Homo sapiens: one gene and its partner. The protein of the gene in region 1 purifies or fractionates together with the protein of each later gene. This does not show direct contact. Each region holds a gene or a part of one and is shown in the gene's direction. Other genes may lie near its edges.

Region 1 (3,500 bases):
GCCCCTTACCCAATCTTTGTTTTGGAGATAATACCAGCTTCAATACAAAGAGTAAAATTGCCTTAAATGTCTACCACTGTCTACTATAAGGTAGACAACAAGTTTACGAAGGGATTTCTCCTACATTTGATTGAGAAAGAAAAGGTCTTTGACTCATGATTTTCTGATTTTATTGTATTTGATATGTAAATGGGAATTTTCTTAATGTGTTATGCATAGTCTTTACTTTTGCATTGGATTATATGCTTAGCCTAATATCTGAATTTATTTTACATTTTTAAATGTAATAGCTGCACGAGGTTAATGACAACATTCCTCAAGTGAGTTAAGTCCATTTCAAATCACGTCCCCCACACCCCCAAGCATTAAATTATGGGTATCCAGATAGAATGTCTCATAAAGTAGACGGTACAGGACCTGTGAATTAACAGTATTTGAACTCAAGGGCCTATACCTGGAGGTATAGTGAGTCTTTGGTACTCTTTATTTTCAAGAAATATAGTATTTCAAGTTTATGTTTTAATGTCACAGCAATGATCTTGAAAATGACTTCTCCCCTACTTTTATTCTCTCTTCTTTCACCTGGAGTATGTTTCTGATATGCTATCTAGTCATCATCCTTTTTTCCCAAGGCCTAGCTTAAGGATTCTTTTTTTTTTTCCCCCGAGACAGAGTCTTGCTCTGTCACCCAGGCTGGAGTACAGTGGCGCAATCTCTGCTCACTGCAACCTCCGCCTCCTGGGTTCAAGTAATTCTCCTGTCTTAGCCTCCTGAGTAGCTGGGATTACAGGCACCTGTCAGCACACCCGCTAATTTTTGTATTTTTAGTAGAGACGGTGTTTCACCATGTTGGCCAGGCTGGTCTCGAACTCCTGACCTCATGATCCGCCCTCTGCGGCCTCCCAAAGTGCTGGGATTACAGGCGTGGGCCACTGCGCCTGGCCAGGATTATTATTCTTAAAGCCTTTTCTCACAAATGTAGTCTCCATTGTTGTCACAATTCTAAAATTCCATATATGTCTTTTAACTATAAATTTCATGCAGAGAATAGTGTTCTGTTTATCTGATATCCCATTGCAATAGTACAAGGGCCATTTAAAACATGTCCACCTATTAATTTCAGGAAATGATTAATAGGAAGTTACCTTGCATCCAACAAACATGAAGACTTACTATGTCCATGCACTGATGGTCACAGGTAGACATAACTCCTGTCTTTTCTAACATTTAGACTAGTGAAAATGACAAATCAAAGCCAGGCATGGTGACTCACTCCTGTTGTCACTCAGGAGGCTGATGCAGGAGTATCAGTTGATTCCAAGAGTTCGAGGCTGTAGTGTGCTGTAATGGCATTGCACTCTAGCTCTAGCCTGGGTAACATAGCCAGACTCCGTCTCTTTTTTATTTAAAAAAGAGGAAAAAAAGCAAGTCATAATCCGAGCCCTACATAGATAATGGGTACACCAGGATAGGGAAGGATGTGGTTCCTCCCTGTCCTCAGAGCTTTAAACTAGAGAAGAGAGAATAATCACAACCAACAGTAAAAAGCTAAGGATTTTGAAGGTATATTCAAAATGCATTTGGAACTGAGCTCAGATAAAGTTAATTTTTCTTGGAATCATTGGCGAAGGCATCGTGGAGAAGGTATTATTATTGGAGCACAATCCAGAGGCTACATAGATTTTTCTGAACTTGGGGAGGCAGAGCTACAATTACGGTAGTAAGAATAAACTAAGAGGGAACAAACAGGACATTAAATCAGTTCGTCTGTTCAGCAGTGCTCCAGGTACTTGGGACTCATCAGTAAATAAAATAGTTCCCTTCATTTCATTTTTCATCTAACCGTGTCCACTTGCTCCCCACCCCACCTCCCCGTTAAAAGGGAGCAATACAGGCTGGGCACATGGCTCACGTGTGTAATCTCAACACTTTGGGAGGCTGAGGTGAGAGGATCACTTGAGGCCAAGAGTTCAAGACTAGCCTGTGCAATATAGTGATACCCTGTCTCTATAAAAACTAAATAAGGAAACAGTGCAGTCATCCCTTTTTGTCCATGGGGTGTTGGTTCCAGAACATCCCATGGATACCAAAATCCACACATAGTCAAGTCCCTTAGGTAAAGTCGTGCCGTATTTGCATATAACCTATGCACATCTTCCCATGTACTTTAAATAATCTATAGATTACTTTTAATACCTAATGCAATTTAAGTGCTATGTAAATAGCTATTATACTGTATTGGGTTTTTTATTTTTTTCTTGTTTTGCCCTTTCTAATATTTTCAATCCGAGGTTGATTGACTCTGCAGATAAAGTAGACTGGAAAAGTACAGTCGTCCTTAGGTGTATGAGGGAGATTGGTTCTAGGACCCCTGCCAAAATCCACAAATATTCTAGTCCCCCAGTCTGCCCTGTGGAACCCGTGTATATGAAGAGTGGGAGCTCTGTGTGTGTGGATTCCACATCCCAAGAATACGGTATTTTCTATCTGAGTTTGGTTGCTGAACCTGCACATACGGAGGGCGGACTGTATTTATTGGAAAAAAAATAGCATATAAGTTCAAACCTGTGGTGTTCAAGTGTCAATAGTACATTTTGATTTTTTTTTTTTACCAAGAGTTGTTCTGTGTAATTATGAAAGAATAAGGGAAACGTATGAACCCTAAAATTGGATATGTTTTGTTAATGTTCATTTTTATCTCTTAACAGTTACTATGCGAGTCAGAAGAAAACATTTGAAATTAATCCCAGACACCCGCTGATCAGAGACATGCTTCGACGAATTAAGGTAGTATTAAAGCAGTCCTCTTGCTTGTCTTTTAATTTGAGTACTTTGTATCTTTTAATATTAATCTAGTGCATCTTCTTGCATTTCAGGAAGATGAAGATGATAAAACAGTTTTGGATCTTGCTGTGGTTTTGTTTGAAACAGCAACGCTTCGGTCAGGGTATCTTTTACCAGACACTAAAGCATATGGAGATAGAATAGAAAGAATGCTTCGCCTCAGTTTGAACATTGACCCTGATGCAAAGGTTTGTATCCCCAACCTTCCCGCAAAGGCTGGCTGGCTTTCTTTGTTTCTGTTCTTTCAGAATAGGCCTCTCATGATTGAGGGATGTAGCTTTGCGACATTTGCCTAATTTCTACCTTTTGAAAGAATTTTATTGAATGTTTGAATCCCTGTAGTGTCAGGCACTGCACTAGAAACTAAGTCCTCCTTTTACGTCCTCTTTCCTTTTTGCCTGCCTCCTTTTGTTAGCTTGGCTGTTCATTCTAGTTAAGAGGATTTAGTCTGTGGTTCTGAATAAACAGAAGTGACATTAATTATGATTTTATACATATAAATGAGCAAAGTGGAAATAAATCCAAGGCATTAATGGGCCCATAAATGTTGTGTTTAGGTGGAAGAAGAGCCCGAAGAAGAACCTGAAGAGACAGCAGAAGACACAACAGAAGACACAGAGCAAGACGAAGATGAAGAAATGGATGTGGGAACAGAT
Region 2 (3,500 bases), about 99 Mb from region 1:
AGTGCTCTATAAACATAAAAAAATCACAAATAGGGTGTTTTATAACTTGGTTGTTTAGTATAGATTTAACTTAGAACAGTCCTTTCTGAGCATTCCCTTTGTCGTCCTTTAATCTACAGGTTCTTTAGGGCAGTAGTTGCCAATGCGGTGAGGCAGGGGAAAGAGGGTAGAGGAGGGCCATTAAGGGAGTGATTAATGGAACTCTTTGATTGTCACAGTGATTGGGGAGCTGTCCTGGTTATTAGGTACAGGCACAGGGATGCTAAATATCCTACGGAGCACAGGACAGTCTCTTTCCACAAAGAGTTGTGCTGCCCCAAATGCCTGCAGCCAAGCTATTGATTGCGATACTGTCTGGGCCTTGATGCTTAAATCTACTGATCTTATAGCTGACTTCCTACTTGTGTTGTCCTGTAAGGAATGGAGTTATACATTTTCCCTTTTAAAAAATACTTGCTAAACTTTCTTACTATCTCTGGTAATATTCATACAGATTATTTGTAATCCCTTTAAATTTTGATTTATTTTCATTTCATTTTCACATTTTCATTTATTCTTGACTCAGTGTTCACAAGCTAAGTATAATACTTGTATCAGAAATTTCTTATTTCCAAAATGTTTTTCTTCTCCAAAATCTTACTATTAAGTATATTCTTGGTATTAAAGTTACAGAATCTTAGCTTATTCCTAGTTCTTTGTCCCTCAAGTTTGTTGGTCACCTTGTCAGAGCCTCAAAATTGAAGTATTTAAAAAGTGATAGGTGAAAACTTTTGAACCATTGGAATTAAACCAAATGACATCTATTCCATTATTTCTGCAGAGATTTATTTCCTGAATGTCTAGCATTGACCTGTGCTCTGAGCACGTTTGGATGACCAAGACCACAGGGAACTCAGAGACTTGTATGTTTAGTGTTTGTTTATGTGTTTATTTTCGAGAAGGACTATTTGGGGTGTGAGGTGCTGATTTCCCCGCTTTAGTCTTTGTTTGCATCTGCTGTCTGAATGTCCACTTGGTTTGCCCACCTGACTGTGTGCCCTTGGGCCTTAGCCCTGAAAATTTGGTTTCCTTTTATTACATCACTCACTGCTGTAGATTTTATGTATATTTCACTTAATCGTCATAATAACCTCGTGAGGTAAGTTGTGTTTTCTAATTTTACATGGGGTTTGAAGAGATAATTTGTACAAAGTTAGTATATGGCAAACTGGGATTTGCATTCCTGTCTGTTTGACTCCAAAGCCACTGTTTAGACTGTGTCTTTTAACCCACTTTCTATCATCAGTCCTAACTGGTTCTTCCTGCTGGGGCTTCATCTTTTTGTTCTTGAATCTGATTTTATAGTTTGTTTTCTCTTTCCTAAATTAAACAGACATCCTAGTTCTCTCTCTTTCTCTTTCATCCCCACTTTCTTTCTCTTTTCCCTTCTTGCTCTGTCTCCTTCCTATTGCACTGACTCATGCATGTGCACTTATTATTTGGTGCTAAGAAATTCTTATTACTTGTTATCTTCCATTGAAATGCTTATAGAAACCTGCCCTTGGCTCACCCTGAAGTTTTAGGTAGTTCTCTTTGACTCTTGTTTTTATGTTGTTAATGGAGAAATTACTAGATCTGGGGTTATAAAAGAGGAAAGAATTAAAAAGAAATAAGAAAATAGTCATGAATGGCCCCAACTAACACTAGTCTTTAAAAGACACTCTTCCTATCTTCAGTCTGTAAGTGGTTGCTGTCAAGAAGGGAAAGTCTATCTCCCTAATGATCCTTGCTTCTTTGTCTGTATTTCAGGATTGGAGACTTGGTTTCCTGGGTTTCTTTTCAAACTTAGTAAGGAGTAGTTGGGTGGACAAAAACTAATATGCTCCATTAAAAATCAATAGCCTCCTTTTTAGCTCTGTCATTTGATTACCTGAGTAAAGTGTACTGTTACCTGTTTGTCTCGGAAAGAGTGAGGGAATCAGCAGGGAGTCTGAGATGTCATTTCTGTTGTAATAAATGGAGCTTGGATGAAATGGCACTATATTATGACTACAGCAGATGGCCCATTTTGAAACTTGCATTGAGGAGGCTGCAGAAGTGTTGAGTGCTGAGGTATACCCCTATGTTTTCATCCGATTGCTTTCTGCTATTATAGGAATGGGACGCGAGAGATAAAGATTCTATCCGACGAGTAGTACAACACAGCAATGTGGTCATCAATCTTATTGGACGAGACTGGGAAACCAAGTAAGTCTTTGACTCTTGTTTCTTCTTTGCTTAAGTCTTTCTTAGGGTTTAATGGACCTTCGCTGGGCACCTTTTATGTGCCAGCTATCACAGTGACATTTTCAATTAGTGAATAAGGGTTGGTTGAACAACCACTTGCATACCCAGTGACACCCCTGAGGAGATGTAGCTGACATTAAGTCTGGTATAAGTCAGCAGTGTGATATACTGCCCATAAAAAGCCAGTAGGTGGTATTGGTGTGGCTGCTGTTGGTCCTGTACTTGGATCAGTCCCTATGGGATGGGGTTAAGAAATAGGATTTTGCCTGTTCTGCTGTTTAGCAAGCTGAACTTTGGTTTTTCTTGTGTAGACAGTGTTCTAGATGTCTTTTCTGCATTGTTAATTGGAGGTGGCGTGAGGACTAATTTGAACAGTTCTTTGTATGGATTGTTTATTAACAAATAATGTTTCAATCCTATAGTCCACAACACTTTGTTTACACCTCTTTTTATAGTGTTAAAATTTGACTTAGTTTTTTAATATGTGTCTTCTCATCAAATATTTTATAAATTCTTTGATGACTTGGGGGTCTTATTCAACTTTTTATCCCCCCTAATGATTAACATAGTGTATTGTACAGAGTAAACATTTAGTTAACGTTACCGAATGAAATTGTTGACTGACTTGTTTTTAGTTTCTTTTTTTTCCCTTGCGGGAAACAAAGTCCCGGGGTAAGAAGTGATTCCTAACACTTCAGCAGCCAGTACGGCCAGGTTTCTTTAAAGGGCCTCAGCCTCAGGATTCCCTGATAATGCAGAACATGAAGTATACTGGATTTCTAACTTAAAGTAGTCCTTAAATTGTGTAGAGTAATGACAGCAGAGCTGTCAACTTTTTTAAAAAAATAATTTTAGCTTAAAAAAATTAAAAATTTTTTTTCTTTTTTTAGAAATAGAGACAGGGTTTTACTGTTTTGTGCAGGCTGGTCTTGAACTCCTGGGCTCAAATGATTCACCCGCCTTGGCCTCCCAAAGTGCTGGGATTACAGGCATGAGCCACCACACCTGGCCAAATTTAGCTTTAAGTTAAATCATTGCTGTTTAAAAGTTTAAGTAGTGTGAATTTCAGTACTGTTATGAAAACCATCTTATCACGTAAAGCTTTGAGATCCTGTGTGTGGAGTTCTTAACCAATCCTTTTATTTTTTATCTTCCAGAAACTTTGATTTTGAGGATGTTTTTGTGAAGATTCCCCAAGCAATTGCTCAACTGTCCAAGGAAGCTGGAGTTGAAAA

The links.
Region 2: the proteins of HSP90B1 (region 1) and NDUFA9 fractionate together in Homo sapiens (co-fractionation; one large-scale study listed by BioGRID). This does not show direct contact.

What each region holds. Positions count from the first base shown.
Region 1 is NC_000012.12:103,943,910-103,947,409, forward strand, and holds part of HSP90B1 (endoplasmin precursor), read left to right. Parts: intron 1-2,708; coding exon 2,709-2,787; intron 2,788-2,876; coding exon 2,877-3,032; intron 3,033-3,401; coding exon 3,402-3,500.
Region 2 is NC_000012.12:4,655,614-4,659,113, forward strand, and holds part of NDUFA9 (NADH dehydrogenase [ubiquinone] 1 alpha subcomplex subunit 9, mitochondrial precursor), read left to right. Parts: intron 1-2,134; coding exon 2,135-2,226; intron 2,227-3,422; coding exon 3,423-3,500. UniProt on the Homo sapiens protein: Accessory subunit of the mitochondrial membrane respiratory chain NADH dehydrogenase (Complex I), that is believed not to be involved in catalysis. Required for proper complex I assembly.